Regions from separate parts of the Homo sapiens genome. Here region 2 is linked to region 1. The links come from fine-mapping of genetic effects on gene expression. A gene starts in region 1. The other region holds a variant in brackets. All regions are shown on one strand. Distances are between the middles of the regions.

Region 1 (5,371 bases):
TCAAGGCAAGGTGCACCTTGCTCCTGTTTGTGCCTTGGGAGCAACCTGGGTTTCACACTCTGTTGACCATAAGCCTGGACCCAAGTCACCCACACAGAGCTCTACTGCCTAGCAAGGGACCAGGTTCTGGAACAAAGAATGCGTCCTCAGAGAGCCTCATCCTACCACGTCCCCACACGGAGAGGGTGGGCGCCACGTGCAGCCGCTGCTGCCAGGGAGGATCCGGTTCCACCGTGCGCCTGAGCTCCTGGGGTGTCACACAGCGCTCCACGTGGTTCTGGCCAGAAAGGTGACCCTCCCGTCCCCGATGCCAGCCAAGAGGCAGCCCCCAGCCCGCTCGCTGACCCCAGTGGCTGGGGAGAGTGTATGGGGGCTGGTTCTTGCTTTAGGGTATATTAGCCAGCCATGCCCACTGGTAGAAGCCTGGTTCAAGGGAAGTCTGAGCCAGACTTGATTCTTCTCCTGCCAGGGAAGGTCTTCCTCCCCAGTGTTCCCTCAGCAGGGGATCGGGACCGCACTCTCAGGTCCAGCCTGCGGAGTGGGCACAGAGGACCTGGCCCCGGACACCCACACGGAAGCCTAGACACGTCAGTGAAAGTCCAAGTCATAGGGACATTTGAGCTTGTCCCATCTACACTGGGACATCCCCACCAAGTGCTCCGCAGGCATCATCTTGAATGCGTCCAGGCATGGGGAGCTCACCCCCTAAGGCAGCGCCCTTTCTGAGTTTTTGTGCACGTCTGCCTTATGCCATGCTTAGGGGGACCCAAAACCACCCAAGGCAGGTGCCTGCTGTTCATTCTCCCATGTTCCCTGCAAATCCACATGCAGAGCTCAGGGCTCAGGATTCGGGTGCCCTCTGTGCCCTGAAGTAGACCAGTCCAAGTCCCAGCCCCACTCCTTACTGGTTTGTCAAGTAGGAAAGCCTGTGACCTCTTTGAGTCTCAGTTTTCCCATATGAGGCAGGTGCAGAAGAAAGCGGTCACCTCAATTTTCAGGTGAGAAGGTGGAGGGACACAGAGCTTAGAAGTCGTGCCAGTAGCTGAGCAAAGCTGGTATTGGATCAAGGACTAGGAGACAGAGCTACAGAAGCATGTCCAAATGTGAGCTCATGAAATAGTTAGGAAAGACCCTCCCTCCATTTCAGAACCCTGTTGGGCCCTGGGAGTCAGCTCTGTTCCTGGCTCTAGCAGGGGCCTGACCCAGGCTCTTGATCTAGGAACCACGGTGGGGGTGTTGCCCAACTCTGCATCCAGTTTCATAAAGAGCAAGAGCCAGTGCCCCTGCCATGCCTGGCCTCCCCACCCGGCCCGCACCTACCTCTCTCTCCAATGACACCTGCCTCTCCCTTTGGCCCTGGGGCCCCGGGCAGCCCCGGGCAGCCTCGGAGAATGGTGAGCTTGTCAGAGCCCTCCAGGCCCACCACCTTCACCTCTGCAGAGAAACACAGGTGCCCACTCAGTGCCTGGCCCAACAGTGGCTGGGAAGTGAGGTTTTCTGCTCTGCTGGGGCCTTGGTCTGTCCTCACCCCTCAGGCACTGGTGAGGCGGAGATGTGATGGGGGGCAGAGCTCTGGCTTTGGAGGCCACCCCGACCTAGGGGAGCCCCATCTCCTCAGTGCTGTGTGTCCTGCAGCAAGTAACTTAACTCCTCTGAGCTTTGTGCCCTGGGCTGCCAAGCGGGGATAATAACAAGGTTGCGGCCAGGATTTGGTTAAAGAATGTGCATTTTAAATCTCTTATTGTAATTTATGGCATTTAGAAAGAGCTTAATAAACAGCGGGCACTTTCAATAACTAATGACAATCAATATTTCTAAGAAACTTGGGGAATTGGGGCTGACAAAGCATTTTCCCTCCCAGACCTTGGGAATGTGGTTGTAGAATTACTGGGCTGGAAGGGGCTTTCTAGGTCCTCTGGAGAGGGGCAGTGTGGGGTCCAAGGACACAGAGCCAGGTGTGGCACAGCTGCAGCCAAACCAAAGTTGTTTACTTCTTTGAAAAAATATTTTTCATTTTGTTCATTACAAAATCTACACGCCCTGCTAAGGGCGCTCTTAGAGACCATGGAACGGAGCAGTGCTCTCACCGGAGACATGGCACTGCCATTTTTGGGGTATTTCCTTTCTGTGTTTCCAGTCCTCCTTCCACTAGAGCAGGCTGTAATTTACTATTTATGTTTCCTTCATAAATATGTTATCAGCCAGGGGCACCAGGCCGTCCTTAGGAGCAGTCTCTTGCTGAGCGTCACAGAACCACCTGCTCCTGAATCAGTGAGGGAAACACCTTACCACCGTTCAAACCCTTGTCCCTATCAACTGATTCCGACTCTCTTGGAGGAGAGCCAGAAATCTGCCTTTTTAACAAACCCCCCAAGTCCGTGTGGCAGCCACCGTATTAGAGGGTCTTAGAGTGCCTCCCTGGTAAGCCCGTAAGAAGATAAAGTCAACAGTATTTTCTTCCTTCTCAGTGACAGATTCCAGACCCACCTATGAAGCTCCAATGGGCAAATCCTGGGCTTTCGAGGCAGACAGACCTGGTGACATCCCTCCCCTATCCCTCCATGACCCTGGGCAATGCCTCAGCTGCCCTGAGCCTCCATGTCCTTGCCTGAGGATAAAACAGATCTGTTGGGCATCTTCACAGGAAGATGTGCATAAAAGGTTTTGCCTGGGACACCCGAGTGTCAGTGAGTGGGGTTGTTACCAGCTTTTAGGGACCAGAAAACCCAGGTCTGTCTCACCTGGACATGTGTCCGCAGCCTGGGCAGGCAGGTTCTTGATATGCAGGAACAAGACTAGCAGGACAGCGAGCCCCCGGGCCATGGTGGCTCCACTCAGCTCCATGCTCTCTGGCCTTTGACTCTGAAGAGTCCCCCAGCTCTAACAGGGCAGAGGAAACCAGCTCTCGCCTTGTGCCACAGTTTCTCAACTCCCTGGGGGACACCCACTTCCTATGGGCTGCTTAGTTGCACCAACAGGAGGTATGAGGTCATCTCAAAGGATGTTTCCTTCCACTAGGCTCCAGCAAGATGCCCACCCCATTGGGCTCTCTTCCCCCAGCAAAGACACCCTGCTCCCAGTCCAGAGAGCTCCTGAGACTCCTCTGCTGGAAAGCATCGGCTTTGCTTGTGGCTTAAGGAGAACACAGCCCCCACACCCCCTTTCCATTCCCCAGCTGTCCCCAAGCAATACTCGGAAACCTTGACCTTAACCTTGGGGGATAAGGAAGGTTTTGCTGAAGACGCTTCCTTGCCTCATCTGTTCCCAGAAAATTCAGGGTTTGTCCGTCATCAGGCACTTATCATGGATGGAGAGGAAAAAAATGTTGAGCACTTGTTATGTCCCAAATACTATTTCCATCATATCATCTTGCACCAGCCCCATTCGGTGGAGTAAATTATTTGAAAGTTACAGCTGGAGAAATTGAAGTCACTCCACTAGTAAGAGCCAGGCATTGGACTCAATTCTGTCTAACGCCTTGTAGATCACTGGGATTGCTCATTTCACCTGAAGGTGGGGATGCCTCTTGTTCCCCCAAATCCCTGAGGCCATGTTCCTACTCCGCATCTCGTGCTGTGAATCATGCTTAGCCAGGCCACGCTGTGGACACTTTGTGCGGGATTTTTAGAACGTATAGAAATAGTCACTAACGAGAGTCAGATGGTAGCAGGACTAAGGAGCAGGGAGAGGTGTTGTTTTGTGGTTTGCAACTTCTCTGAGCCAGCGTGTGTAGACTGGGTTTCCAAACTCAAGGGCTCCCCAGGTGGGAGAGAAGTGGAGGGGCGGCCCAGGGGTGGGGGATCCAGGAGACACAGGACCTTGTGTCCAGGCTCTCTGGGCACCACAACGACTCTCGACTGTGTGTGTTTGTGTGTGTTGGCTCCAGCCTGTTGAGAGACAACGGCAGGAGGCTTCATTGCCTCAGACACCGCTTAGTGTCCCTGAGCTACTGGCCCAGGCGGGAGAGGTCTGGGTGTCAGTGGTGCGGCCTCCTTTCTTGGAGAGGATCCAATTCAGGAGCAGCACTCACCTGGGATTGGGTCAGAACAGGGAGAAAGCCAGCAGGTCTGTGCCCCTCAATTCCATTTGCCAGCTGCCCCCTGGGTGTGAGGGGACCTCCTCTTCCTTGCAACATCAATAGGTTTATTTCAGGTGAGAAGTCAACACCACCTTCAGATATCAAGTCAATGTTCCCAAGAGTATGAAAGAATGCAAGATTCTGGCAAGTTAAAATATCTTAACATTGGATCAACAAAAGTCATTTGATTCCTGGCAATGGCAGTTTAGGTATTTGGGGGCATCCTATTAAGGACAAACAGACAAAACCTTTAAAAAGAGATTTGCTCGAAGGCACCGTCAAGCTAGCTATGTAGTAAAGGATTACTTTGCCAAGCTCTCAGGAGCCACAGAAATCTTAGAGAAGTGAAACTAGTAGTGGGGACCTCTTTTTGCACAGGGATTTGCCAATCTCCAAAAGAGAGGTGAGAAGTTGGGCAGTGATTTCACCATCTTGCAGAGCTGAAGGTCAAAGACTGGGGCCTACGGCCTGCCAAAGGTATGGGTTTGGGGTTGGCTTTCAGAAGGGCTGCACCCTAGCAATAGGATGAGTGAGCAACAACCAACATTCACAAGGGCTGCAAACTGGTTTTGAGACATCTAAGTGTCCCAGGAAAGGAATCTCAACTCCTGGAATTATTGCTCATGCCCCCAGGCTCCTTGCTGAAAGAAACAAAAATCTTCTCTGAAGGAGAATGACATCATCCCAGGTCATTATTTCTGCAAAGTGTTTTATTTTTTTCAAATGAAATGTTAAAACACAATCAACGATAACCAGGCTCATGGGAATAAAAGACAATGTGTATAAGGACCAACAGAAACAACAGAATATAGAAAGAGGTCTTTGGAAGCTGTGGATACAGAAGTTACAACATAATTAACAGGAAAAATGGAAAACCATCCTCAGAGACTGAGAACAAATAAGGATGCTTGTCATCACCACTGTGGTCAACATTGTATTGCATGTCACTGTCCAGTGCAGTAGGCAAGAGAACAAAACCATAAAAAGATTGGAAAGGCAGACACAAAGTTGTTATTTTCAGAAGACATGATTGAGGATGTAGAAAATTCTAGAGTTTCTACAGATAAACTAGCAGAATAAAAAGTTTAGCAAAAATCAATTGTGCTTCTAAAAACTAGCCTCAAAGAATTTAAAAATGAAATTTAAAAAATTTGCATCAGCAACACCAAATTCAAATAACTGTGAATAAGTCTAACAACATCCATGCTGGTCTTCTGTGTACAAAACTATCAAATAGGAACAGAAAGACCTAAAAGAAGATTAAAATAATTAGAAGGATATTCTATATGTGTG
Region 2 (5,371 bases), 48 kb after region 1:
TGTGTCTCAGCCTCCCGAGTAGCTGGGATTATAGGCATACGCCACCACACCCGGCTAGTTTTTGCATTTTTAGTAGAGAGAGAGTTTTGCCATGTTGGCCAGGCTGTTCTCGAACCCCTGACCTCAAGTGAGCCACCCACCTCGGCCTCCCTAAGTGCTGGGATTACAGCCATGAGTCACCGCGCCCGGCCGCTCCTTAACATTGTTGAGCTCCCCTTTCCTCCTCTGCGTAATTAGTAAGATCTCTTCCACCTGCCTCATGGGCTGACTGAGGGAACAACCCAGACAGGGATGATCATGACGGTGCTGTTGGCTGACTGTGGGGCTCGACACTGTGCTCATCACTTTATGCATCTGAGATGGAAATGGTCTCAGCCACAGGCACAGATGGGGAACCCAAGGCAAAGAGAGGTTAAGTAACTTACCCTTGGTCATGCAGACAGTGGCTGAGCCCGAATTCAGCCCCAGTGTCTTTAACTCCAGGTGTGAGGGCAGCGGCTCCAGCACGCGAGGCCCCAGGAGCCAGGCACTGCTCACAGCACCAGGCGTGACCGCAGCGGCTCCAGCACGCGGGGCCCCGGGAGCCAGGCACTGCTCGCAGCGCGGGTCGCTCACGTGTTCTTTGGAGGCAAATCCATGCGGCGTTCACACACACGGACCTTGCAGTTGCTTGCGCCTTTTTTTCTCTCCAACTCATCACAGGGCATGACTTCTCTCCAAGCTGCCTGAAATAAAATGAATAACTTTTTATGTGAAGTTCTTCGTGCTGAAGAGAACTTGTTCCAAATGGGGAATAATTGGCCTTCCAGGGCTCCATACCGGCAATGAAGTGAAAGATGCTGACGTTTCAGAGGTGTGGAAATAAAAGGACTAAAAATGGGATTCGGAGCAGCTAATGAGGGCAGATCCGCAGGGTTTGAGAGACAAAATGGGGATCGCAGGTGGAAGCTGGCACCGCGGCCAGGGGCAGCCCACGCAGCAGCGAGTGGGGCCGAGGTCGTGGGCGGGTGTCCGGACCCTCATCACAGGAACTTGCTGGAACCCCCAGAGGCCCCGGCCTCTGCTGGCTTTGAGGCCTCAGACCTCCCTAGTCCAGTCACGAGCCACCGAGCCCCCTATACGAGTCTGCTCAGCGGCTGTATGAAGCATGTTATGTTTGACGAAGGATTAAACACCAGAAATGTATTGTCCCCGGTTCTGGAGGCTGGAAGTCTGAGATCAAGGGGCTGGCAGGGCTGGTTCCTTCTGAGACCCCTCTCCCTGGCCTGTGGGTGCCATCTTCTCTCTCTGTGGGTGTCCATGTCTTTACCACCCCTTCTCCTAAGGACACCAGTCCTATTGGATTAAGGTCCACCCTAATGGCCCCATTTTAACTTAGTTACCTCTCTGAAAATCCTACCTCCAAATACGATCACAGACTCCAAGCTGCTGGGGTGAGGACTTCAACATGTGAATTTGGGGCGAGGGGCAGCTTGGTTCAGCTCCTAACATGCATGTCAGCCACGCTCTCACTCACTCATCCTTGTTTTGATTCGTTTACATGGTGCATGTCTCCGGTGCCTACTGTGTGCTAAGCTGGGCCAAGACAGAAGCTGCCTGCCAGGAGCCCAGTGCCCAGTGGAGGAGGAGGGATGGAGCAACAGGGCAGTAGGACGGGGTGTGGCTGTGCCCCAGATGGGGAGGAGTTAGCCCTGGCCCCATGTGCAGTGCAGCCTCCGGGTGCCCACCGCTCTGGGACTACAGAGTAGCTCCTTGGACAGTCATGTCTTCAGAACTGAGAGCTGAGATGACCCAGTTGGCCCATATTAGGCAGTTTCCAGTCCAGGAAAGGAGGGGGTGGCATCAAGACCTGAGCTCTGGGGAGCACATTTTGGGGTCCACATTCTTGCTTTGCTTGTGGAATGCCTGCAGGAGCTGGAGGCCACGCCACAGAGCCCTTGGGAGGAGAAACGGCCACGTGTGGAGGGCAGTCTGATGGCAGGTATCCACGCTGAAGATACATGTGTCCTTTGAACCAGCCCCCAGTTCCCTGGGAGAATGTCTCAGATCCCTAGGCAAAGGCACAAAGATCTGGTGTGTTTACTGCTGTAAGAGACAGCCCCAAACCTCGGCAGTTTCTCCCAACATAGAAACCCACAGAGCGATGCTGTGATCCAGGTCCTGCCTGCTCCATGGTACCACCCTTCTCTGGTTCAGCAGACAGAGAGGGAGAGAGCGTGAGGACCACACATGAGGGGTTTTATGGCTGACCAGAAGCAGAACACAGCACTTCCTCTCAC[C/G]TCCCATTGACCAGACTCCAGTACACACAGGACCGCCTGAGAAACATGTGCACCGGGGGAAGAGAGCGTGGTTGGAACACCAGCCATCTCTCATGCAATATTTATCTAAATTCTAAAATAATTGAGCATTGAATCCAACTGGAACTCCCTGTAGGTGAGGGGTTAAAGACATTTAATGGTGTCACCGGGCATTTGTCCATTATTCACTTACTCAAGAAACATTTATTAGGGCATCATGTTATTTGAAATATAATGCCTAAAATATCAAAACTAATGACACATATCCACATTTCCAGATGCAAGACCTTCTCCTTGACATGTTTAAATGAAAAGATCAGGATTCAACATGGGTTGTATACTATCATCCAATTTATAAAAATTAAATATTTATATCTGCAGGCATAAGCCAGCATAGAGAAATATGGAAAGATTTTCACAGAAATTCTAAGATATGGCTACCATTTCTTTGGTAATCCTCACTTCAAGAGGTGGAGTTCAACTCATTTCCCCTTGAACGTGGGCTGGACCTGGTGTCCGGATGGGTTACAGTGTGGCCTCAGAGTTGGTCAAGCCTGGCATTGCAGCCTCTTCCTGCTTTCTCTCGTGCATCACTGGCTCTTGGGGAAGCCAGTTGTCACATTGCAGAGACCCAGGAACAGCCCTACCAGGGGCCCACATGGTGTGGACTGAAGCCCTCTGCCCATGGCCAAATGCACCAGCTTGGAAGCAGCTCCTCCCACCCCAGTTGAGCGTTCTGATGAATACTGCCCTGGCCAACAACTTGACTGCAACTTCATGAGAGACCCTGGGGCAGAAGCACCCCAATTCCTGACCCACAGACCCTGAGATAAGAGATGTTTCTTGTTGAAACTTCTATGTTTTGGGTTAATTTGCTGCATGGTAGCAGATGACAAACACACCATCTTTGTGAGGTGATGGGCGGTGACGCTGGCCAGCCACAGCCTTCCCCCATGCTTGCCCTCTGTGTCCACTCAGAGCAGAATCTGAGAAACCCCTGGATCTGGTGCTACCAGGCCTGCCTCCCTGTCGTGCCCAGCCCTTCAGCCATCCCTTTGCAAGGACACATGCCTTGGTGAGTCATTGTAACTATTGCCTCTCCAAGGCCCAAACCCACAGGGACAGGCATCTCCAGCATGGGGCACAGCAGAGCCCTTAGCAAATTCTCAGCAAATGCGCCAAGAAGGAAGGCCTGCAGGCTTCTCTTTACTGTGCAGCCTTCCACGATGAACACGCATGGCTTTTAAAACTGGGGAAATAAAGTTTCTAAAGTAATCGAGCTGATCCAAGGACTCTCACTGATAACTTGAAAGGCTCCACAATGAGCAGGAAGACTCATGGTGACCAGTTCCTGACGCAGCCTCTAGGGAGGTAGCTGAGATGCCAGGGTGGAGCCGCCCTTGCCTTTCTCGCCTCCTAACTGTCTGGACGCAGGGTTGTTTGCCTGGAGTCAAAGAGGGTAAAAATGGGTTTGTTGCTTGGTAAGAAGACCAGGTGCCAATGCACCGAGGGTGAGACAGCAAGCCTAACAGAGCCAGGTGGGCGTGTCCTCCCCTTCGCTGGAACTCCTGCCTGCTGATATCAAGGTCGTCCTGAAAAGGCCGCTAGGGAGTTGGTCTTGATGCGCCTGTGGGCCGAGCAGGTGTCTAATAGCCTGAGGCCGCTGCCTATTTAAGAACCACTTTTCCAAGCCCCCATTTCTCCCATGACAAAGGGAACTCACGGGTGATGCCTGAAGGCCCTGTGTGCCATGGTGGCCAGCACGGTCCAGTCTGTGACCTTGTTCTGGGGGATGGAGAGAGGAGGAGGAGGGGGATCCCAGCCACCTGGAGCCTGCAGCTCACCCATGCCTGCCCTGCATTTAGCAGCCACAGCCCTGGCGGGGGACAATGGCCTTGCCGGGATTGGTGGGCAGTGGCACCAGAAGTCTGGGCTGGTTGCTACCCTCTGGTGGCCCTGGGCCCTCCTTTCTTGAATGTTCGGGCCAGTTCCCTCCTCTGTGCTTCAAGGCTGCTGGTGGACTCTGGGCTCTGCAGATGCCACATGCAGTTCTGGTCTCGGGAACAGCTTTGCAGCTGGGCTTACCTGATGTGAAAGCAATAAATGAGTCCCCCAGTGCCTCCCAGCCCAGACTGGGGCAAGAGGGGTTGCCCAAGGGGTTTGCAACTCACGCTGAGAGCAGCCATCCTGAGAAAAGCCTCTAGCTATGCTGCCCAATTACGCAGCCTCCTTGGGGGCACTGGGCCATCCACATCCCTCAAGTCCCTCAACGGTGACCCAGGGACAAGCCCCATGCCCCCCTCAGAGCCGCTGCACGGATGAAAAGAGGGAGAATGTCCCACGGCAGCGCCCCGCGTGGGATCGCCGGACAGGGGTGCCTTCGCAGGCCGCTGTAGACATGCAGTTTCACATTCATGCTTCACAATTGATCTGTGGGCTTCGTGTGTCCTCAGCTTTAGGAGATACGTCCGGGTGCCCCTCAGCAGTGCCTGTGCCACTTGCCCCCCAAGGGGCAGTCGACCTTCCTGTGCACCCTCAGCTCGTCCTGGTGGAGAGAATAAGGCTCCCCGAGGTGACCCCCTATCTGCGCTATTACTGCTGCCTTCTCAGACCATGAGAAGGAACCCTGAGAAAGAACTTCTTCAGTTTAGAGGGAGTGCGTCTGCGTCTGCAGTAGGCAGTAGCAGCAGGCAGTGGCCTGGGCGTGGGCAGTTGCTGTCAGCTCAGAGCAGGAAACGGGCAGCTGAGGAGGCCAGGCTCCTCGGGCATCTGCGGCTGCGTCTGCCCGCGTGGACATGGGACTCTCTCACTGCAGCCCCAGAGCGCAGCCTCAGCAGAACCAGCCTGCTCACAGCAGCCTCCTGTCTGATTAATCAGGGGGAGGAAGGGCTGCCCATAAGCAGACTCATTTTATTCTAATGCTGCTTTCTCAAGATTTTAATTTTCCATAGTGCTACATTCTAGTCCCCTTTCCTTAAAAAAAAAAAAAAAGAAGAAGAAGAAGAAGAGATATAATTGGGACAATCCTCTATCATATACATGCTATCTTATTCCACCTCGAGGTCTGCTTCCAA

What was found. PIP is the estimated chance that this variant, and not a neighbour inherited with it, causes the effect.
Region 2: its variant is the best candidate, but not a certain one, in a credible set for the expression of FCN1 in whole blood (GTEx, PIP 0.82).

Annotation. Positions count from the first base shown.
Region 1 is chr9:134,915,028-134,920,398 of GRCh38, forward strand. FCN1 (ficolin 1) reads right to left here and starts at 2,885. Exons shown (of 9, transcript NM_002003.5): 1 at 2,742-2,885; 2 at 1,321-1,434. The coding sequence starts at 2,844.
Region 2 is chr9:134,962,718-134,968,088 of GRCh38, forward strand. No RefSeq gene overlaps it. Among named protein-coding and RNA genes, the nearest start is that of FCN1, 47 kb to the left of the region's middle. The variant C/G (reference allele first, on the strand shown) is at 2,280.